7 linked regions of the Homo sapiens genome follow. The protein of the gene in region 1 purifies or fractionates together with the protein of each later gene. This does not show direct contact. Each region holds a gene or a part of one and is shown on either strand. Other genes may lie near its edges. The genes, in order: TRIM58, RNMT, DYNC2LI1, ZEB1, TMOD3, PPFIBP1 and HMCES.

Region 1 (3,500 bases):
CACGGCCACCCGTAGAGCCTGCACCACCACGCCCAGAAGAACGAGGATTAGTATATTCATGAGCAGTATCAGAGTCACGGCCACCCGTAGAGCCTGCACCACCACGCCCAGAAGAACGAGGATTAGTATATTCATGAGCAGTATCAGAGTCATGGCCACCCATAGAGCCTGCACCACCACGCCCAGAAGAACGAGGATTAGTATATTCATGAGCCGTATCAGAGTCACGGCCACCCATAGAGCCTGCACCACCACGCCCAGAAGAACGAGGATTAGTATATTCATGAGCCGTATCAGAGTCACGGCCACCCATAGAGCCTGCACCACCACGCCCAGAAGAACGAGGATTAGTATATTCATGAGCAGTATCAGAGTCACGGCCACCCATAGAGTCTACATTTGGTTAGACTATGGGCTTAAAACTGTAGGTCATCTCTTATTAGCTGATATGAGTAACGTTACTTCCAGTAAATTTACATTTCCTTGCTTATAAAATGCTAAAAATAAATTGCTTGGAGGACAAAATGAAACATTTGAAAGCACCCCACCTCCTAAAAGTAATCAATATGAAAGCACTGCAAAGTTATCAATTAGCAAGAAGTTTGGTTTAATTTATTGGCTGAGAATTTGATGAGTTGCTTGAATTAGTGAGTCAATAAAGCCAAAAATATTGTCAGTTATTTTCATGTAGGAATAAGCAGTGTCACAAAAAATTAGTGTGTTTAGTCTGATTGTATTATTCTTTAAAACAGTATAGATTCAGTATTGTTTACAATTTCATTTTAAAATCTAATTTATCCCAAGTAATGAAAACTATGTCTAAATAGTGACTTCACTACTTAGAGGGAAAGAGTGTAAAGTCCCTTAATGAGAAAACCCATCTCTGCAGCATAGTACCCACGTTCTCCTGGGTAGATGAATGTATGCTAAATGCCCAACTTGATTAAAATCGTCATGGCACCCTCAGACTCAGCAACCTCATATCCATATTTGTTTTTATGGAATGAAATCATTCAAAATGTGTGATTAATTTTATCTCACCCATTCTTTTAAACATTGGAATATATCATTCAACAACAACAACAAAATACTCTACAATCCGTAGCTTTGTGTTGCAGATATGTACTTCACCAAAATACACAGGCTGTAAGTGGCTGACACAGAATATTGAAGAAAATCAAAAAGAGTATGCAAAGGGTAATGAGAAGTTCTAGTTTTGAATAAGGTGACCAGGAAAGACCCCGCCCTGCAGGGGATAACCCAGCAAATATATGATCTGGAAGAAAGCATTCAGGCAGCAGAAATGAGCGCCAAGGCCTGACGTGGAGGATGGCAGGTGTGTTCCAGGAGCTGTGAGGATGTCAGTGTGAGGACTCTGTGGCAGAGTAAATGACAGGAGGGTCGGAGAGACCAAGAAAGGGCTAGATAGGCAGGCCATGCTGAGCATGATACTTTATCCCTGAGCGAAATAGGACATAGTTGAAAGTTGTACCTAGAAAAATAGTTTGATTGGACTAATGTTTTATGAGGATCACTCTATATGCTTTCTTGTAAGTAAATTACAGAGAGGAGAAGATTGACATGGGAAAAGCAGTTAAGGGTCTTTGCAGTAATTTGATGAGAGATGATTATGTGTTGGAATAGATGTTATTACGGAAGGTGCCGCAAGATGGACAGATTTTTGTTATATACTGAAGGCAGAGCTGTTAAGATTTGCTGTTGGATTATATATGATGTGCTATAAACAGGAAGAGCCATGAATGATTCCAAGGTTTTGGATCTTGCGAACTGGCAAAATGTGATTGCCACTTATATTGATGAGGAAAGCGACAGTTGAAGCAGAAGAAGGGCACAGGGTTTTGGATATGTGGATGTTGCGATGAGTGCTAAATATTCAAATGTTGCTATCAAGTGGGCAGATGAATGTACAATAGGGAGTTTCAGGGTAAAGTTCAAAGCTAAGCACATGCATTGGGAATCAGTCAGCATATGAATGGAATTTTATCAAAGCAATGAACCAGCCAGCACCCGGGTAGATAGGGAGTGAGGTGAGAGAGAGAGAAGAAGTCCAAGTCTTGGGACTATAGGTTTCTCCAGTGGTGGTGGTGGAGGAGAAGAGAACAGCAAAGAGGATCAAGGAGTAGTGAGCAGTGAGGGAAGGGAAACATGGATGAGTGTTACCTTTGGAAAAGGGAGATTTTCCAGCACAAGTAGATTCTCAGTGTTGAGAGATACAGAAAAATCATTGAAGATGAACTCTGGGCCGGGCGCGGTGGCTCACGCCTGTAAATCCCTGCACTTTGGGAGGCCGAGGCGGGCAGATCACCTGAGGTCAGGAGTTCGAGACCAGCCTGATCAACCTGAGGAAACCTTGTCTCTACTAAAAATACAAAATTAGCCAGGCGTGGTGGTGCATGCCTGTAATCCCAGCTACTCGGGAGGCTGAGGCAGGAGAATCACTTGAACCCGGGAGATGGGGGTTGCAGTAAGCCAAGATCATGCCATTGAACTCCAGCCTGGGCAACAAGAGCAAAACTCCATCTTAAAAAAAAGACAAACTGACAAGTAACCATTCATCAACACGGAGGTCCCTGGGAAGATGGACATGCGCAGTTTGGTTGGGGTATGGTCACATCATGATGAAGAATTGAGTTTAGGAGAGAAGGGGTAGGGAGAGGAATGGGATACAGACCATATCAAAAGCCATTTCACAGATCTCTTTTGTTAGAAATGAAGCAGACCACTGTGCCGGAAGAGGAATGGCTTGGGAATACATGACCTGTTAGATTGTGTTAAATGCACAATCCATGGAGACCTACCTTTCAATCTCTGTTATTTACCTCTAGAGTTTGGGAAGACCACATAAACTCTTTGACTCTGAATCTACTCTTGTGTAATGTAGGGATGACAATGGTGACCCTCAGGGTGGTTACATAATAAAAATAATGCAATGCGCAGTTACGTGACCACTCAGGTTGGGTATCAATAAAAATTCACTAGACCGGGCGTGGCAGCTCACGCCTGTAATCCCAACATTTTGGGAGGCTGAGGCGGATGGATTGCTTGAACCCAGGAGTTCGAGACCAGCCTGGGCAACATGGCAAAACCCCTTCTCTACAAAAAAATACAGAAAACTAGCTGGGCATGGTGGTGTGTGCCTTCCCAGCTACTCAGAGGGCTGAGGTCAGGGGATGGCTTGAGTCTGAGAGGTGGAGGCTGCAGTGAGCTGTGATTGCACCACTGCACTCCAGACTGGGCAACAGAGCGAGACTCCGTTTCAAAAAAAAAAGTAGTTCACTGTAAGTGTTTAAAGGCAAATAAGTATAGTGGTAGTGGTAGTAGCAGTAGCAGTAGCAGTAGCAGTAGAAACAGTATTTGTTCTGATATTAAAAATCAAACTATATTAACATGTTAGTCTGATTTTGCATTGCTATAAAGAAATACCTGAGGCTGGGTAATTTATTAATATAAGGAAATATGCTTTATTTTGGCTCATGGTT
Region 2 (3,500 bases), on another chromosome or scaffold:
TAATCTATGCTGATGATATACTCACTTGTAGCTTCCCATTCTGATTTACTTAAGGTTCCCTAAAATTACAAAAGAGAAAAAGAAAATTTTAGATTCAATATGGAAGTAAACATATGCTTATTTCTAAATAATGGGCAGAGATGGCCAAAAGACCCTAACTTCACTGTAAATACACATTCGATTCACTGTTAATCATATTGTGACCTGAGCATATAAAAGAAATCGGTGAGATTCACTTTGAAAGTCATCTTCTCAGACTTTTATCCTCCTGCCAAATTCTCAAATTCTCATCCAAAGGGTGAATGTGTGTGAAGAGGGCATTGTGTGTGTGTGTGTGTGTGTGTGTGTGTGTGTGTAACTGGAAAATGCATCTATCTTGTATTATTTTTTTTTTCTTTTTTTGAGACAGAGCCTTGCTCTGTCGCCCAGACTGGAGGGCAGTGGCGTGATCTTGGCTCACTGCAAGCTCTGCCTCCTGGGTTCATGCCATTCTCCTGCCTCAGCCTGCCGAGTAGCTGGGACTACAGGTGCCCGCCACCACGCCTAGCTAACTTTTTGCGTTTTTAGTAAAGACGAGGTTTCACCGTGTCAGCCAGGATGGTCTCAATCTCCTGACGTTGTGATCCGCCCGCCTCAGCCTCCCAAAGTGCTGGGATTACAGGCGTTGAGCCATTGCGCCCGGCCTATCTTGTATTCTTTCTTTTTTTTGAGACAGAGTCTGGCTCTGTCGCCCAGGCTGGAGTGCAGTGCTGCGATCTCGGCTCACTGCAAGCTCCGCCTCCCGGGTTCACCCCATTCTCCTGCCTCAGCCTCACAAGTAGCTGGGACTATAGGGGCCCGTCACCACGTCCAGCTAATTTTTGTATTTTTAGTAGAGGCAGGGTTTCACTGTTAGCCAGTATGGTCTCGATTTCCTGACCTCATGATCCACCTGCCTCGGCCTCCCAAAGTGCTGGGATTACAGGCGTGAGCCACTGTACCCGGCCCTATCTTGTATTCTTAATTTGGAAAATGAAAAAATAAAAAAGGCCTATCTTGAAATATCAAACAGCACTGGTGGAAAAAATACAATTTTTGTGTTTTTTCAAAGGAATAACAAAATAAAGTACATATCACACAAAGGAAATAAATTATATTTATGTAGCTATCAAAATATTAAAGATATGTGTTGCTTTGCACACACCATTAACTATAATAACAAGATCTAGTGGCAGTTCTAGTGATGTCATTTTTCCAGATGTGATAAATGAAAACAATATTCTAAGATATTAGCAAAAATGTGCTATGAAAATATCTGTAACTTCTACTGATGACAAAGTCACAGCAGCAGCTAATACCACTGTGGTACTATTGTAGTAATCATTCTTAAAATGTAAACTTTTACGCAGAAATTAGTATAGGTGAAGATGTAATTTTTTCCCATTTAAATTCCTGGACTGCTGCATTCTATGTATGAAATGCTGTGGTTCATTGGTGCCTACATTAGCAGGGAACTTGCACACCAACCCTGTAATTTTTTCACTGTCCTCATTGCCTTAGATATAGCACTCCATTCTCAGTCCATTGAAATAAATTTTATTCCATATTCTGTGGTTATAACAAGTCAACATCACTTAGTGGAAACAACTGATTTGTAAGTCAGTGAGCCTAAGTATTGTAAACAAGTGAAATCATTTCCTATGTCTCCATATAAGCATGTTCTTTTTTTCATTCTCTATAAAATACTTTCATAAATTAAAACTTACCAAAGGTAACCTTACTTGACTGTTCTTCATGTACTTTGCTGCATGTTCATAGTCATCCACCTTCTCAGAGACAAGTTTAGAACTCTCATTTGCAGGATATGGCTGGGGAAAGAAATGAAAGTCCTAGTTACAATAACGGAAATTTACAATTCAGAATTAAACATGCTAAATCACTGAAATAACATAATTAGGAGAATAATCCGTAAGTACTACTTCAGGAATACAAACTATACATACTTTTGAAATACAGAAAAAAATTAAAAAAAAGGAAGAATCCTCTCTTAAACCAATTTTTTTTAAATATTATACTAGGGTATATTATTCCAGGGTACATGTGCAAATCGTTCAGGTTTATTACATAGGTATACATGTGCCATGTTGGTTTGCTGCACCCATCAACTCATCATTTACATTAGGTATTTCTCCTAATGCTATACCTCCCCCAGGCCCCCACCCCATGACAGGCCCCCCGGTGTGTGATGTTCCCCTTCCTGTGTCCATGTGTTCTCATTGCTCAACTCCCACCTATGAGTGAGAACATGTGGTGGTTGGTTTTCTGTCCTTGTGTTAGTTTGCTTAGAATGATGGTTTTCAGCTTCATCCACGTCCCTACAAAGGACATGAACTCATCCTTTTATATGGCTGCATAGTATTCCATGGTGTATATGTGCCACATTTTCTTAATCTAGTCTATCATTGATGGACATCTGGGTTGGTTTCATGTCTCTGCTACTGTGAATCAGTGCTGCAATAAACATACGTGTGCATGTGTCTTTGTAGCAGCATGATTTATAATCCTTTGGGTATACACCCAGTAATGGGATTGCTGGGTCAAATGGTATTTCTAGTTCTAGATCCTTGAGGAATCGCCACATTGTCTTCCACAATGGTTGAACTAGTTTACAGTCCCACCAACAGTGTAAAAGCGTTCCTATTTCTCCACATCCTCTCCAGCATCTGTTGTTTCCTGAATTTTTAATGATCGCCATTCTAACTGGCGTGAGATGGTATCTCATTGTGGTTTTGATTTGCATTTCTCTGATGACCAGTGATGATGAGCATTTCCTCTGTGTCTGTTGGCTGCATAAATGTCGTGTTTTGAGAAGTGTCTGTTCATATCCTTTGCCCACTTTTTGATGGGGTTGTTTTTTTCTTGTAAACTTGTTTAAGTTCTTTGTAGATTATGGATATTAGCCCTCTATCAGATGGGTAGACGGCAAAAATTTTCTCCCATTCTGTAGGTTGCCTGTTCACTCTGATGATAGTTTCTTTTGCTGTGCATAAGTACATCTAATTTAGTTTAATTAGATCCCATTTGTCAGTTTTGGCTTTTGTTGCAATTGCTTTTGGTGTTTTAGTCATGAAGTCTTTGCCCATGCCTATGTCCTGAATGGTATTGCCTAGGTTTTCTTCTAGGGTTTTTATGGTTTTATGTCTTACATTTAAGTCTTTAATCCATCTTGAGTTAATTTTTATATAAAGTGTAAGGAAGGGATCCAGTTTCAGCTTTCTACATATGGCTAGCCAGTTTTCCCAGCACCATTTATTAAATAGGGAATCCTTTCTCCATTGCTTGTTTTTGTCAGGTTTGTCAAAGATCAGATGTAAACTAGCATCTTTTTTTTTTGAGACAGAGTCTTGCTCTGTCTCCCAGGCTGTATTGCAGTGGCAGGATCTCCATTCACTGCAACCTTGGCCTCCCGAGCTCAAGTGATCCTCCACCTCAACCTCCTGGGTAGCTGGGACTACACGCAC
Region 3 (2,736 bases), on another chromosome or scaffold:
CTTTTTTTTTTTTTTTTTTTTTTTTTTTTTTGCTTTAACAAAAATAATAGAAAAGAAGCTGGGCACAGTGGCTCATGCCTGTAATCCCAGCACTTTGGGAGGCCAACTCAGGAGGATTGCTTTAGGCGAGGAGTTGAAGACCAGCCTGGGCAACAAAAAACAAAAAAATTACCCGGGCATGGTGATGTGTGCCTGTAGTCCCAGCTACTTGAGAGGCTGAGATGGGAGGATCCCTTGAGCCCTGGAGTTCAAGGTTGCAGTGAGCCATGATCTCCCCATTGCACTCCAGCCTGGATGCCAGAGCAAGACACAGTATCAAAGAAAAAGAAAAAAACACAAAAGAGGTAGAAGGGCTCAGCAAGTGCTTTCCACATTCGCATTCCCTTAAAATCGGGAATGCTCTAAAGCTAGAGGACTTTTAAAAAACAGAAAATACTACTTAAGTATTTTCTGGTGCCCATGTGAAGTCTGGCAAAAGACAGAACTTTAAATAATTAAAGAGGGCTAATCACGAAAGACCCTAAGTCTGCAGGAAAGATGAAAGGGGTCTTCCTACCAATCCTCAGATCCTTGAGGACTGACTTCACAGCACACAATTGGAAACAACTTAAGGTCTCACAACTACTCATGAAATAGTATGAAATAATATTCAAATTAAAAATTTTATATAGTAGAATGTCAAAATTTAGATTCGGATTATCAATGAAATAACAGCAACAACACTGGTAATTGTTAGGGTATCTTTACAGCTAAAGCATAAAATTATGTTAAGGTCCTGTGTGTGCAATCTGGAATCAATTCGTCTAAAACCACACAAATAAAAGTGGTTTAGAGGCAAACTTAGGACAGCATAACTTTTCAGGTAGGTTAAAAAAAAATCTCGAACCAAGAGATGACAGGAATTGGTGATCTGCTGGCAGTGAGATACAAGAGATGAATGAAGGGTGATATGGGTACTGTGGGGCTGCCTTCCTTTTCCACACAAAATTCTTATGGTTTTAAGTCATTTAGAGAAGACAGATTTGAATGTGAAAACTCATGATGCTCACAAATACCCTAATCCTTTAATAATACTGATGTATATGAACTTAATAAAAGTGATCATTATACAATATAAACAGATATTCTTATCAACAACAACAGTTAATCATTGACTCCTAGATAAATATTAATCAGGGATGACTTCCAACTAATCCTTATAGCCAGGCTGCAAACATAATAAGGGTTACATAAGGTCATTTTCCTGTTTCTACAACATGCCTCTCACTTTGCTACAGCTATAAAACCTCTAAATATTCATGGCATATTTTTCAAAAGTCTTCTGGACCGTTTACATAAAATGTTTTGCTTACTTCTCCAACAGCCCCCGAAGGTGAATACTGAGAAAAAAACCCTGGCTCCTACTCCCAGCTGACAGCTGTTTTCAGGTTACCCTCGCAACAACGTGACTGCCACCTGAGAAGTTGCTGGGGCTTTCGATCTAGTGCTTAGCATATATAAGTTTACTCATATAAGGACAGATTCTGTACAACGTCTCATTTTATCAAATAAAACTAAAATCTAAGTTTGCTTGTTTGTTTTTAGAAAAATCTAGGCCAGGCGCACTGGCTCATGCCTGTAATCCCAGCACTTTGGGAGGCCAAGGCGGATGGATCACGAGGTCAGGAGTTCAAGACCAGCCTGGCCAAGATGGTGAAACCCCGTTTCTACTAAAAAAGCAAAAAAAATTAGCCAGGTGTGGTGGCAGGCACCTGTAATCCCAGCCACTCAGGAGGCTGAAGCAGAGAATTGCTTGAACCCGGGAGGCGGAGGTTGTAGTGAGCCGAGGTCATGCCACTGCACTCCAGCCTGGGCGACAGTGTGAGACTCGTCTTAAAAAAAAAAGAAAAAGAAAAAGAAAAGAAAAATCTAAGTATTTGAGTGATGGTGAATTTGCCAACTCTTAACATTCTTACATCAGACTTGTGTGTTCAAATGGGGCTATCTAGTGATACATGGGATGGTGGTGTCCACTTTTAAGCATTTTCCTGAGAGAACCTGGGTTATGTCAGGTATGTCTGTGTGCTTTCAGATCGTGCTTTCAGTCCTTAACTGGGCAAGATACGTTTTCTAGTACAAGGAAAGTATAGGTATGTCTGAATGTCCTAATCAAAAACAAAGCTCTTCATGTAATTCCACAAACCAAAGACTATTAAGAAAATGTCTCTCCAGCAGCAAGGTAAGAATCACCACTCATCTTTAATATAATGAAAACTGGAAAATCAAAAAGGTTTATGTGAACACTAAGTCATGTCTGGGTGGTGGGATGACAGGTGATTTAAAAATTTTTCTTTATTCATATCAAATTTTTATTTTTTCTACAGTATACTATTAGTGTGTTATTTAAATAGATGTACTACTTAAATAATTTTAATAGTAAAGAAGATACTCTAAGTAAATACATAGAGAAAAATGTAAGGAATTCCCAAGGCACCCCAGGTTTTGTGTTAAAATTTCAGATGAAATTAAGTAAATGTTTAGGATAATACCAGATCCTTCTGAATTCTCATCTCATCGACTTCATTTTCAGCATACTGAGGATCTCTCGCAGGGTCCTTGATATCTTTCAGCGTGTTAATACTCTGAAATTACAAATCTCAAAATCACTTCACGCCCATAAACCAAAATTCAATGGCTACCATCTGCCTAATAAACCAAGCTCCCATTCCTCAGCCTGCCACAAAGGCTCTCTATGAT
Region 4 (2,544 bases), on another chromosome or scaffold:
ATTGAGAAGCTACTACAGAGACCATTTGGCCTGCAAAGCCTTTAATACTCACTACCCTTTACAGAAAATAGTTGCCAACTCCTGGCCTATTTCATTCCTTCCATCAGTGAAGTACTGATAAATTTTAACACCTGGTTCTCTGAAGGGTGGGGAAGCCCTGATTTGTAGTGTTTGCAGCTTTTTGTGGCATAAATACTCCCATCATGGTGGATTTCGAGCTTGAATGTGATGTCAGCTTGCAGAATTCCTGAAAATTTAGCAGTAGACTCTCTCCAGCCAGTACAAACTGGCTCCAGCACACTCCTGTGTCTCTCTCTAACATGGGTTGCTGTAGAAGGGGCTGGGTTTATCCTGAGCTCTTTAATCCCCTACCTGCTCTTCCCTGCCCCCACTACCAGCCATTATGACTACAGTATCCATATTTATCTTTCATATTCTTAACTGTTTCAGTGTATTTTTTACTCTTGTGAGAAAAGATAGAATTGTTTTTCCTTCTTCAATCTGTGGATTCATACAGTGACACTTGGAAGGTTCTTGGAGCTAAAAACTGGTTACATAAGAGAAAGTCACACCTCTCAAAATCAGCCCCTTGTAACTCAGTCCTCTGGTTTTCAGAGATCTAAGAAGAGTTAGAAAATCCCCTTCCTCTTCAGGCAAAGTTAAATATTAGCAAATATCAAAGTGAAAAATATATATGAAAAACTACACTATTTCTAAAATTAAAAATCATTTCTGCATTTGTTAGTGTTAACTGCTTGATAGCTCTGAAATTGGACATTATCGATCCTGACTATGATCAGTTGTTGCCAGTCCTTTTCATGTCTGGGCAGCAACACTCCTGTAGCCCATGCGTTCTCAGGAGGGGCAATATTGCCCTCACGGGCCAAAACTTGTTTCTTAGGGGGCAAAAAAGTCTGAGATACTACAATGGCTGTGGTTTTCTAAAGAAGCTCAGTATATATACTGTATATTTATGAGTTTTATCGTATATAAAAAGTGTATAGTAAACATTAAAATTTCACTGGGAGCAGAGCTTGTGACTAGGAAAACAAAATGACTAAAAAGGGACCTTGTAGTGATAATGAACACAAGGTGAGCAGCAAGTCTGTCCCTGTCTGCCCTCACTGTGCTCGTTCACTACCAGACATCTCCTCCCAGCTGCACTTGGCCCATTTTCCACCTCGCTGTCATGATGCTTGTATTTTTGGCATTTCAATGTCATGTAGCTCCCATTGACCTAATCATCTGCACAGCAGAGTGTAGAGCACTACGTTTTTTAATGTAAAGAACAAACCAAATTGCAATATTATATTACAAAGAGTTTGGGACCTGGAAATGTTTTAAAAATGAAACTAATAACCCTCCCCTTTCTACAACATGAAGTACCCCAAAAACCGTATAAGGATTTTATTTGCTGAATACCACCATTTTATTTAACAGAATTCTTATTTTGCAGGTAAAAGACCTCATGAGTGTGGAATCTGTAAAAAGGCATTTAAACACAAACATCATTTGATTGAACACATGCGATTACATTCTGGAGAAAAGCCCTATCAATGTGACAAATGTGGAAAGCGCTTCTCACACTCTGGGTCTTATTCTCAACACATGAATCATCGCTACTCCTACTGTAAGAGAGAAGCGGAAGAACGTGACAGCACAGAGCAGGAAGAGGCAGGGCCTGAAATCCTCTCGAATGAGCACGTGGGTGCCAGGGCGTCTCCCTCACAGGGCGACTCGGACGAGAGAGAGAGTTTGACAAGGGAAGAGGATGAAGACAGTGAAAAAGAGGAAGAGGAGGAGGATAAAGAGATGGAAGAATTGCAGGAAGAAAAAGAATGTGAAAAACCACAAGGGGATGAGGAAGAGGAGGAGGAGGAGGAAGAAGTGGAAGAAGAAGAGGTAGAAGAGGCAGAGAATGAGGGAGAAGAAGCAAAAACTGAAGGTCTGATGAAGGATGACAGGGCTGAAAGTCAAGCAAGCAGCTTAGGACAAAAAGTAGGCGAGAGTAGTGAGCAAGTGTCTGAAGAAAAGACAAATGAAGCCTAATCGTTTTTCTAGAAGGAAAATAAATTCTAATTGATAATGAATTTCGTTCAATATTATCCTTGCTTTTCATGGAAACACAGTAACCTGTATGCTGTGATTCCTGTTCACTACTGTGTAAAGTAAAAACTAAAAAAATACAAAATACAAAACACACACACACACACACACACACACACACACACACACACAAAATAAATCCGGGTGTGCCTGAACCTCAGACCTAGTAATTTTTCATGCAGTTTTCAAAGTTAGGAACAAGTTTGTAACATGCAGCAGATTAGAAAACCTTAATGACTCAGAGAGCAACAATACAAGAGGTTAAAGGAAGCTGATTAATTAGATATGCATCTGGCATTGTTTTATCTTATCAGTATTATCACTCTTATGTTGGTTTATTCTTAAGCTGTACAATTGGGAGAAATTTTATAATTTTTTATTGGTAAACATATGCTAAATCCGCTTCAGTATTTTATTATGTTTTTTAAAATGTGAGAA
Region 5 (3,500 bases), on another chromosome or scaffold:
CACACCATACAATTCACCCATTTAAAGTGTACAGTTCAGTGGATTTTGCTACATTCAGAACTGTAGAACCATCACCACCATTTTAGAACATTTTCATCACACCAGAAATAAACCCCTTACCATTAGCAGTTACTACCTAATTCCTCCCAATTCCCCCCTGGTCTCCCCCACCCAGCCCTAGGCAACCACTAATCTACTCTCTCTTAAGATTTGCCTCTTCTGGACATCTCATATAAATGGAATCATATAATATGTCATATTTTGTGCCTGGCTTCTTTCACCCTTATACTACTCTTAAGAATTCGTTTTCACGCCTATAATCCCAGCACCTTGGGAGGCTGAGGCGGGTGGATCACGAGGTCAGGAGATCGAGACCATCCTGGCCAACATGGTGAAACCCCGTCTCTACTAAAAATACAAAAATTAGCCAGGCATGTTGGCACACACCTGTAGTCCCAGCTACCCGGGAGGCTGAGGCAGGAGAATCGCTTGAACCTGGGAGGTGGAGGTTGCAGTGAGCCGAGATCATGTCACTGCACTCCAGCCTGGTGACAGAGTGATGCTCCGTCTCAAAAAAAAAAAAAGAAAAAAGAAAAAAGAAAAATACTGAAATACAGTCAAGGTTCCTCCTGAGATGTGCACCCTTTTTGAGCTATAAAGATATCCACTGCCTCGGGTATATATGTTCAACACCTGCACCCACTCACTAAGGAAGGAACACAAACACACTAAGACAAACTTACAAACTAAGGTAACATATACAGTGATGATAACCCCCTACAAATAAACAGTTTCATATCTGGGCATAACTAAGCATGAACATCATGATAAGTACATACAAGTGAACACAGTTCCTGAAGTGTCTGTGAGAAAGTGAATAAAAACATGGTAAACTAGAAGAAAATGAGGGCTGGGTTTGATATATATATATATAGACTTGTAGGTAAGAAGATTGTTGTATTTCCTTAACCATAGCATAGCAATTCTTTTGAGCAGGATATTATTAGTGATACTTATACAGTAGGGGATTTCCATCCATGTGGAAAATTACAGCCAACAAAATATTTTCATTCCCTGGGTGTGGTGGTAAAACTTTGATGAGGAGTTAAGGAATATTCAGAAGAAGCCCCTCAAATGTATATGAGTCTGGCTTATATTCAGGCAGCCCTTACCCTGAGGCAAACGTGACAAGATATGATACAACCCCCAAGATTTATTTTCATTCATGGTGGGCTATAATTAACCCAGGTTAATACTCTTAGGGAACTATTCTTTTTTTTTTTTTTCCTCTTTAATGTGCCCACTTGAGTGCTAGACCAGCTGAGGAGTTGGGGGTCTAATTTCACTGGAAATAGCAATAAATATGTGATGATTTCAAAGTCATGCCCACCCCACTTTTGTTTTTCTCCTGTTGTCCCTAAGATTTACAGTTTCTTGGTGAAAAATTACAGAACCCTACACAGAAATGGACCAAGGCAGATGTGTAGGATTTCACCTCTGCAAGGCCTTCGGGGCAGGTGGGCTCTTCTGTTAGTCCTCAGCACACCCTCTGTGCTTGCCTTTCCTCTGCCACTTTTCTTGAACCCCCATTATTATTCCTTGTCAAGTCATCTCACTTCCTGCTTTCCTTAGACATTGGCCAGCATTCCAAGTGATATAGTGTGCCCTCCACCAGAGAATAGCTGGCACTGCTTTAAGCCCCTTAGCCTTCCCTCCTACCTCAGAAGAAACTGTTTCCTCTTTTCTTCTCCCACTGCCTGAATCTGGTATAGCACACAAGGGGAGCCTCTGCAGAAATGTTACTTGAACTGGTCCCTGAAAGATGTGAAAGGATTTGAACATGAGAAAGAGTGCAAAAGGACATTTCCTGTGTAATGAACCGTGTGATGTAAGGGCTGCAGGCGGAAGAGCATGGAGGCGTACTTACTTCTGTGTAACACAGGGTGTGTGAAGATCGCTCCTTTCCCTTTACTTTTCTTCTTCTTGCCCTGGATTCCCTCCCAGCTCCAACCTTTTTCAGCCTGTGCTTTGATCTCTTTGTTTAGTATATACTTCTCCACTCCTCTCTGTGTAGCTAATTCTGTCCCTCCCTGACCACCCACAGTGATCTCTGAATTTCTGTACACTAATAGCCAGTACCATTCTTTTGGCAGTTAATTATATATTTTCTTGAAAAAAACAAAAAGCACTTTATGTGCATGTCTCATTTTCCCAAATAGAGTATGTTAGTCAAGGTGTTTAGGTCTCCGGGAACACAAACCCACTTAAGCTATCTTGCTAGATGGTATGGTGGCAGAGCTGGGAGTTGTACTGCATTACTATTGTAAGGCTGCTGAGGTCCGTGAAATGACCTACCACTGGTACCCAGAGCAGACACTTTGAAAGTCTCTGTCCTCTCTCTGCTTGTAGGGCTCTCTTTGGCTTCTTTCTGTGCCTCTGCTCCATTTTAGGACATTAATTTTAATTTTTAAAAAATAGTATGCATTACTGTGTAATTTATCTTGATTGCTGAGCTTTTTTGCACCCTATTAAATACTGAGACACCCTGAGGCAGGTGCCTCCTTTACTTTTTCCCTGTAGCCCCAGCCCTGCTTCATTCTCTTCCCTGCAGACTGACCTTCTGTGCTTTCCCCTTAGCTTCAGCTTCAAGGTGACTAGCTTGTTATGGTAGTGCCTCCAGACTTGGTGATACCTTATGTCTCAACTTGAGTTTTGTCTCCCAGCTTTCCAGATTTCTGGAGAAGAATTGAATTTGATCCGTCCTGGTTAGATTGAGAGTGGTGACCCCTGTACCAAACAGCTGTGAAAGATGTGGCTTTGTTATGTTGTTTCTTTGGCTGTATATTTCACAGGGACTGGAATAAGGGGTGGGTCCCCCCACACAAGGAGGTTTGGGGTTGTTCATCTCAAAACATGCTTATTTTGATGTCAGAAGGAAGTGACCATGCCTTCTCTTTTTTGGTATGTTCCCTGCATCTGGCAGATTGACAGCTAAGAAATAGGTGTATCTCTCTTTTTTTTTTTTTCCATTTTGTTTGAGACTGGGTCTCACTCTGTTGCCTAGGCTGGAGTGCAGGTGTGATCATAGGTCCCTGCAACCTCCGCCTCCCAGGCTCAAGCAATCCTCCCACCTTAGCTGCCCAAGTAGCTGGAACTAAAGGCACGTGCCACCATGCCTGGCTAATTTTTTGTAATTTTTATAGAGATGGGGTCTCTTTATGTTACCCAGGCTAGTCTCAAACTCCTGGGCTCAAGCAGTCCTCCTGCCTTGGCCTCCCAAATTGCTGGGATTACAGAGGTGAGCCACCACACTCAGTCTTCTCTTATTTGGTGTCTATTTATTCCTATGACTTGCCATTTGACCATTAGGATTAACTTTTAGGTATAATAGTCAATTCAGAGCAATTTTTTTTTTCGAGACAGGCTTTCGCTGTCATCCAGGCTGGCGTGCAGGTGTGATCATAGCTCACTGCAGCCTTGAACTCCTGAGCTCAAACAAT
Region 6 (3,500 bases), on another chromosome or scaffold:
AGGTGGTTCAGTGACAGTAGTCCTGGCTGATGAGATGTAAATAGCTGGATGCCCCGTTCCCCAAAGCTCTTAAAAGGGGAAGCCTCTGTGAGCTTGCCTGTTAAGCCTTTTGCTCTTTGTACTTCTTCCCTGGAGAAAGTAAGCAGGCCATCGCGTGACCAAAGACAAGATGCTTGAGGGTTAAGGATGAGTGGGTGGAAGGTTAGAAGGAGGCTGAGAAGCTGATAGCATTCTGCAACTGCTCTACTGGACCCATTTCTTGACTCTGTGAGAAAAATAAAATCTCTACTTGGTTAAACCACAGAACTTGGGTCAGTTACTTGCAGCCAAATGTGATCTTAACTGAGTCTAGATGTCTAAAAATCATAGTTCATCTTTTCTTTAAAAATAAAAACGTGTTATTTTGTACGAGAAAAACAGGACTTTGGAGCCATGCAGATCCTCAACTTGAATCCTGGCTTTGCTATTTATTACAGTCTAATATTGGCAAGTAACTTAACCTCTCTGGGTCTCAGCTTTCTCATCTATAAAATGGTAGCTCTGATATATGTGCCATAGCATTTTTTGAAGGATTAGAAATAATTAGAAATTATTATTATTTTTTTTTGAGACAGTCTCGTGCTGTCACCCAGGCTGGAGTGCAGTGTTGCAATCTCGGCTCACTGCAACCTCCACCTCCTGGGTTCAAGCGATTCTCCAGCCTCAGCCTCCCAGGGAGCTGGGATTGCAGGTCCCCACCAGCATGAGCAGCTAATTTTTTTTTTTTTTTGTATTTTTAGTAGAGACAGGGTTTCACCATCGTGGCCAGGCTGGTCTCAAACTCCTGATCTCAGATGATCTGCTGGCCTCAGCCTCCCAAAGTGCTGGGATTACAGGCATGAGCCACCACGTCCGGCCAGAAATTATTAATAGGAATAATAATGGCATATTCAGCACATGGAAGATCTTCAACAAATGGTGGCACTGTTACCAAAGGGAAGTGTAGTGGGGAGTCTGAAAGGGGGAGGCAAAGAATTCAGCTCTTTCTCCTAGAAGGTTCTCGGTAGGTTTATAGCTACAATCCCTTGACTCCATCTACTTGGCATTTATTCCGCCTCCTGTCTCTTATCCTCATTCCCACCTGCCCACACCAGACTACTTGGAACTCTTCTGTTTTCCAGCTTTGGTTTATAAGGATGTCCTTATAAAAATTTTATTAACTATAGCATAGGGATGAAGGGCGGGGACTCCAGAGTCAGACAGATGTGGATTAGAATCCCCTGTTGTTACTAGCTGTGTGATTTTGGTTAAGTCTTCTGTGAAATGGGAATAATTGGGTGGTTATGAAGATTACATCTGATAATGTATGTGAAGCACTAACAGCTGGTTTCTTGGCACACGACATGCACTGCTTTGATGACAGATATTGTTGTTACTATTTCATTAAGCACGTGTTAAGCAATTCCCAGCCTTGGTACAAGATCCTCTTGGAGACGGAAAGACAAACAAAACATGATCTTTACCTTAAGAGTATTCACATACAGGAGATGGGGGCAGAAAGAGATGGCACACCTTATTCATAACTGTAATAAAATGCAGATTTAGAATACTGTTTAGCTGTTAAAAAGATTGAATATACTGACTTGTACAGATGTCTATTATATATATTTTAAGAAGTAAAAAACCAAGCACACGTGTATGGTTTACATTTGTCAGTGCATGAAAAACTGCCAAGTGGGATGGCTTATGGGAGTTGGGATGAAGGGAACTTTGTATTTTTTTTTTTTTTTACAGTATATTACATCTATATTACATTACTCGAGAAATACAAAATATGTTAAAATTTTAAACATCTATTTATTGGTCCTTTTGGAGGTTGGTTGGGGAAGAGCATTCTGTGAACTAGACTAGTCACCAGAGCAAAGGAAGAGACTGGGTTTCTTGAGGTTTCATTAGAAGAGGTGGGATTTGACTGGGTCTTAAAGGGTGGGGAGGAGATTTTGAGGAGGCAGTGGGGACAGATGAGCATACTTGGGTTTGGAGCAAAATGTAGAATAGAGTGAGATTCGATTTAGAGAAAAGAGAGAACAATATTGTTTGAAAAGACGTAAGCTATATTGGGGCAAATCTTACAGGGTTTTAAAGAGAGTGACAAGATTGTACCTTAAAACAGGATGTTTTTAAGAAAAGAAGAAGTAAGGGAACTATTGTTTTATAAAAATGACTCTGGAAATAGCAGATTGGGTATTTCTAGTGGGTATATGGGCAAGGGGAGGGAGAAGGACAGAACACCCTAAATCAAGAATGGCCCGTATACAAAAGTTAATTTTCTTTTAAAGATGATGTCTTGCTATGTTGCCCAGGCTGGAGAGCAGTGGCTATTCACAGTTGTGATCATTGTGCACTCATGGGCTCAAGCAATCCTTCTGACTCAGCCTCCCGAGTAGCTGGAACTACAGGGACATGCCTCCATGCCTGGCTAAGTGAAAGTTGAATTTTAATGGGAAATATGAGTTAAGATTTGAACATCTGGAGTTTGAAATTCCATCATGACCCACATTATCCTTAATTTTCTCATTGTATAAATGGATAAAATAATAATACCTATCTTATCAGGTTTTTAGGAGAATAACAATAATAATAGGTAACACTTACCTGGTAGGTTATACTTTTTATGTACCAAGCACTACTCTAAGCACCTTAAATATTTCAACCTAGATTAATCCCATATTACGATGAGGAATCTGAGGCACAAGGAGGCTAAGTAACTTTCCCAGGATCACACAGATCATGTGTGTCAGACTCAGAATTTGAACTCAGGCAGGTGCAGCTCCAGGGCCAGTATCTTCAGCCTCTTCATAGTCCTACCTCTGGCATGGTTCTGTACTTGGGGTGTTAAAAGCCAGTATGAACTGTTAGTTGACATTATTCATATGAAGATGTTAAGCAAGAATTTAGAAATTTAGGCTTGGAGTTTAGGCCAAAGCCTGGACTAATGGATCATCTCTATAGGGCTGTTATGTAAAGAGTGAGAATGGTTGAGCTCCCCGAACAAGAGTATGTAGAGTAAAAAGAGAAGCAAGCATACAGTCTTCAGGGGACTCCTGATATTTAGAAATGGTCAGGCAAAAAAGAAGTTAGGAGAGGAGATAGAGCAGGATCTGCAGAGAAGTGGAGGATGATGGTGGCCAAGGGAAGAAGCACAACGTAAGTGAACTAATCATGCCATCCAGTGCAACAGACTCGTTACAAAGCTGTATCCAACAGACTGTCCCTGGTCCTGCTGTCAGGTCAGTTCATGAACCTGGAATCCAGAATGCAAAAAATTGAGGACTACACGGGGGCTGATGAACTGCAGGTGGCCTGGTTAGTTCATCCTTTCAAGGAACTGATCCGAGAGAGACATGGTAGATAGCTTGGGTTTGAGGAAGGCTCAGGTAGAGAGGAGGATATTAAAAGAAGAAAAAGGGAGGAAGGAATGAGTGCATGGTCCAGGGTAGAGAGATGGGGCTAGACCCAAA
Region 7 (3,817 bases), on another chromosome or scaffold:
GCTTCTTTGATGAGTCTGATAAACCACATTTGAGGACTCCTAATCTAGACAGTGATGGTGAAAAAGACAAAGGAGCCCTTGACCATATTGTTTCTCCGTCCCCAACCATGATTTTTGGTGTCTCTTTTCTGTATCTTTGCTTTCCGAACTACAAGTTGCAGGAGCTCCAGTCCTTAGTCTCCTTCAGGAGGATTTGAGAGCATTCCTACCATGAACCTTAACTTCTTAGAATCAGCAAGGATCCAGAGGGTGTATTTTAGGAAGGGAAGGCAAACAAACAGAAGGCCTGCAGTGGGGAGAGAAGTTCCAGAGCAAAAAGCTGGCCCCCACTGACATTTGGGGGTAAGGATTTAGGAGTAGTGATTGTTTTTAGGTGGCATGGAGGGACTTAAAATAGGACATACTTGGAATGTTCCAAGAATAGACATTTTAGAATGCCGTGTTAAGGATGATTGTAAGAACAGCTGTCCCCCTCTCTATTTTTCTTAAAGTTTTTTCCATACCCACAGTGTCATCTTTTTTTCTTTTGTTTTGATTCTGATAAACTCCTGCAACCGTGGCACTTTTTAAAAATTAGATAACTCTAAAACTAATTCTATATACAGGTTGAATATCCCTATCCAAAATGCTTGGGAACAGAAGTGTTTTAGATTTTGAATTTTTTCAAATTTTGGAATATTTGCATTATATACTTCCTAGCCGAATATCCTAAATCTGAAATGTACCAACAAGCATTTCCTTTCAAAGTCATGTAAGCACTTAAAAAGTTTAGGATTTTGGAGCATTTTGGATCTTGGATTTTCAGGGTTAGGATGCTCAACCTGTATTCATTTTGGACTAGACGCTGCCCATTTCTGCCATGGTCTTTTTTTTTTTCCTTTTTCTTTTTTAGAGACAGGGTCATGCTCTGTTGCCCAGGTTAGACTGCAGTGGCATGATCATAGTTCACTGCAGCCTCGAACTCCTGGGCTCAAATGATCCTCCCACCTCAGCCTCCCAGGTAGCTGGGACTACAAGCGTACACCACCATGCCTGGCTCATTTTTTTAAATTTTTTATAGAGATGGGGTCTTCCTATGTTTCCTAGGCTGGTCTCAAACTCCTGGGCTCAAGCGATCTTCCCACCTCAGCCTCCCAAAGTGCTGGGATTACAGGCATGCACCACTGTACCTAGCCCTGCCATGGTGTTTACTCCAAAAGATGTCACATTCTGGAGAGGTGGCATTGTGCTAATTCAGAACCTTTCAGTTCAGGATTGGGGTGTGATGTAAAGGAAGCAGAAGGGAGTAGTGACAGTCAAGAAGAGGTTGTACAGATTGTCTGCACAAAGAGGAAACAATTTAGCCTTATCACAGTGGCTGTTAGAAATTCTTCTGTATCTCTCCAGTCTCGTTTTCCAACACTCCCCCTGGGTCATGCTGAATTACATTCTTTTCCCTGAGAATGCTTCATTCTCTGCACATTTGGAATGCCTTTCAGCTCTCTTCTCTGGCTGGTCCCACACAATCCTCTGTGAAACCTTCTCTAAGATCTACTTTCCTGCCCCTTAGAGCACACTCCTCTCTTTCCACTCTTGACTGGTGGGCCCCAGCTGGCCCTTAGTAACATTTTCCAAGCCTGGGTAAGTACCTAATGCCTCTTCCCCTGTTTCTTCCCTTGGACTTGGCCTTTTCCCAAAAGCTTGAGCTGTATGGTTTGAGCTTTTTCCTCTTTCTTGTAGGAGCTCAGGGCAAGTGGCAGTAGCCAGAGGATGTTGCAGTGGTTGGCCACAAAGTCACCCAAAAAGGAAGACTCAAAAACACCTCAAAAGGAAGAGTCAGATGTTCCCCAGTGGTCCAGTCAGTTCCTGCAGAAGAGTCCACTCCCCACCAAGAGAGGCACTGCAGGACTCCTAGAGCAATGGCTGAAGCGGGAGAAGGAGGAGGAACCTGTGGCCAAGCGTCCTTACAGCCAGTGACACAGGACTTTCAGAGACCAAGGCCAGGGTCTGCTGCACTGCTGTTCTGATAATAGGTTCTTAACATTGTATGTATATGTGTTTGCTTTGGGAGGAGGTGGCACTGTGTTAGTTGACAGTTGTGGGCTCATGTAGTCTTTTTTGCCATGAGTAGGAGCCCCTAGTGGGGCTGGTGGACAGCTTTGGAAGAGGTGTCCTGCTGCTGTTACCAGCCATGTGGGCCCCATAGGGGCACTGCGCCTGCTGCCCTTTCCTGGCAGGGCTGGTGGAGTCTTCCCTCAAAGCATGCCTTACCCAGCTGGGAAGTCTCTGCCCTGATCTGGTACTCCTTGTAGTAAGCTGTTTTCTGCTCAGCCACTGGGCTCTTTCACTTTTTTAGTTCTTAAAAATTTATTTTTAAGTTCTAAAATAAAATAAAAATAAGTTCTTAAAATTTATTTTTTTCCTGAATAAATTGTATTTGGTAAACTTCTGCCTACATTTTGGAAAGTGATGCTGGTGGGGAAAGTTCTAGATCTTACTTGGTTTCTTCTAGAATCAGTCTTCAGGAATGGATTTTGTCACAAATGGGGCATGGGGGCTTTCTGAGGAAATAACTACAAGTCTTGGTGGTGGGCTCCTTATTATGTTTCTTTTTCTTTCATTCTTGATACTTGGAAGTCGTCTGAATCCTTTAGCTTCAAACCAGCCTGAGTTTGAGTGCTTGCCGTAGCAGAAACTATCCTTACCACAGGTGGGAAGGAAAGGACCAGTTTCTAGCAGTGTCGGGCCACTCCTCTTTCGAACATCCCTAAGGGAGGCATTCACAAAAGCTGTCCCAAGCAGCTGGAAGAAAACAGCTTCCGAGATGACCAGGAGGACTGGGCGGCGCCGAGCCCAGAACGCTCCTGGCGCAGCACCGTTGGCGTTGGCCGATTGCTGCTGGTGGGGGGCGGGGGTGCAGGCCCCAGTCTCTATGCAAATCAGGGATCAGAAGATCGGAATTTCCACCAATCAGCGGGAAGCCTCGGCCCTGTAACTGCTAATGGGAGACAGCAGCGCCACGCCACAGGCTTTTCCCCTGGTTTCGGGAGGGGTGGGGAGCCAGGTGGGGCTCCCGCCCAGACCCTTTCCCGAGGTCCGCCCTCTCCGCCTTTTCTCTAAATTCCTCTTTTGAGTGCCCTCCCTTCCGGTTGAGAGGCGGGGGTTGGCCCGTAGTTGTACACTCAGTCACCCTGCACTGTGGAGGCGGGGGCCTCCCTTGTGGACTGATTTGCGTGGGATTTGGTTGTTTTATTAAGAGATTTAAAAAATTCAGATGACTTACTAGTATGACTGTTTTGTCATATTTGCTTCCAGGTTAATAAATGACAAAAATGAAATTCCCTTTGTTTTTCATTATCATCTCCCCACTGTTTCTCATGGTTGCAAATTAGTTTGGTGAGGTCTTTTCATTTTAACATGAAAGAATATAATGCCTGCAGGGGCTTGTTTCCTTTTCATTCAAGTTTTTATACTTTCATATAAACGTGATGTTAGAAGCAAATCCTGGCCGGGCGAGGTGGCTCACTCCTGTAATCCTAGCACTTTGGGAGGCCAAGGCAGGTGGATCACCTGAGGCCAGGAGTTCAGGACCAGCCTGGCCAACATGGTGAAACCCTGTCTCTACTAAAATACAAAAATTAGCCGGGCATGACGTTGGGTGCCTGTAATTCCAGCTACTTGGGAGACTGAGATAAGAGAATCGCTTGAACCCGGGAGACGGTGGTTGTAGTGAGCCAAGATCACGCCACTGCACTCCAGCCTGGGCAGCTGAGTGAGACTCTGTCTCAGAAAAAAAAAAAAAAAAAAGCAAATCCTTATGTCTGAGAGCATACAGTAT

The links.
Region 2: the proteins of TRIM58 (region 1) and RNMT purify together in Homo sapiens (co-immunoprecipitation; one large-scale study listed by IntAct). This does not show direct contact.
Region 3: the proteins of TRIM58 (region 1) and DYNC2LI1 purify together in Homo sapiens (affinity purification with mass spectrometry, with the first as the bait; one study listed by BioGRID). This does not show direct contact.
Region 4: the proteins of TRIM58 (region 1) and ZEB1 purify together in Homo sapiens (affinity purification with western blotting; one study listed by BioGRID). This does not show direct contact.
Region 5: the proteins of TRIM58 (region 1) and TMOD3 purify together in Homo sapiens (affinity purification with mass spectrometry, with the first as the bait; one study listed by BioGRID). This does not show direct contact.
Region 6: the proteins of TRIM58 (region 1) and PPFIBP1 purify together in Homo sapiens (co-immunoprecipitation; one large-scale study listed by IntAct). This does not show direct contact.
Region 7: the proteins of TRIM58 (region 1) and HMCES purify together in Homo sapiens (co-immunoprecipitation; one large-scale study listed by IntAct). This does not show direct contact.

The regions. Positions count from the first base shown.
Region 1 is NC_000001.11:247,870,687-247,874,186, forward strand, and holds part of TRIM58 (E3 ubiquitin-protein ligase TRIM58), read left to right. Parts: intron 1-3,500. UniProt on the Homo sapiens protein: E3 ubiquitin ligase induced during late erythropoiesis. Directly binds and ubiquitinates the intermediate chain of the microtubule motor dynein (DYNC1LI1/DYNC1LI2), stimulating the degradation of the dynein holoprotein complex.
Region 2 is NC_000018.10:13,750,673-13,754,172, reverse strand, and holds part of RNMT (mRNA cap guanine-N(7) methyltransferase), read right to left. Parts: intron 1,848-3,500; coding exon 1,746-1,847; intron 60-1,745; coding exon 26-59; intron 1-25. UniProt on the Homo sapiens protein: Catalytic subunit of the mRNA-capping methyltransferase RNMT:RAMAC complex that methylates the N7 position of the added guanosine to the 5'-cap structure of mRNAs. Binds RNA containing 5'-terminal GpppC.
Region 3 is NC_000002.12:43,805,039-43,807,774, reverse strand, and holds part of DYNC2LI1 (cytoplasmic dynein 2 light intermediate chain 1), read right to left. Parts: intron 2,622-2,736; coding exon 2,529-2,621; intron 1,565-2,528; exon of another isoform or gene 1,384-1,564; coding exon of another isoform or gene 1,364-1,383; intron 1-1,363. UniProt on the Homo sapiens protein: Acts as one of several non-catalytic accessory components of the cytoplasmic dynein 2 complex (dynein-2 complex), a motor protein complex that drives the movement of cargos along microtubules within cilia and flagella in concert with the intraflagellar transport (IFT) system, facilitating the assembly of these organelles.
Region 4 is NC_000010.11:31,525,216-31,527,759, forward strand, and holds part of ZEB1 (zinc finger E-box-binding homeobox 1), read left to right. Parts: intron 1-1,456; coding exon 1,457-2,049; 3' UTR 2,050-2,544. UniProt on the Homo sapiens protein: Acts as a transcriptional repressor. Inhibits interleukin-2 (IL-2) gene expression. Enhances or represses the promoter activity of the ATP1A1 gene depending on the quantity of cDNA and on the cell type.
Region 5 is NC_000015.10:51,836,153-51,839,652, forward strand, and holds part of TMOD3 (tropomodulin-3), read left to right. Parts: intron 1-3,500. UniProt on the Homo sapiens protein: Blocks the elongation and depolymerization of the actin filaments at the pointed end. The Tmod/TM complex contributes to the formation of the short actin protofilament, which in turn defines the geometry of the membrane skeleton.
Region 6 is NC_000012.12:27,530,706-27,534,205, forward strand, and holds part of PPFIBP1 (liprin-beta-1), read left to right. Parts: intron 1-3,500. UniProt on the Homo sapiens protein: May regulate the disassembly of focal adhesions. Did not bind receptor-like tyrosine phosphatases type 2A.
Region 7 is NC_000003.12:129,302,870-129,306,686, forward strand, and holds the end of HMCES (abasic site processing protein HMCES), read left to right. Parts: intron 1-1,719; coding exon 1,720-1,956; 3' UTR 1,957-3,317; downstream 3,318-3,817.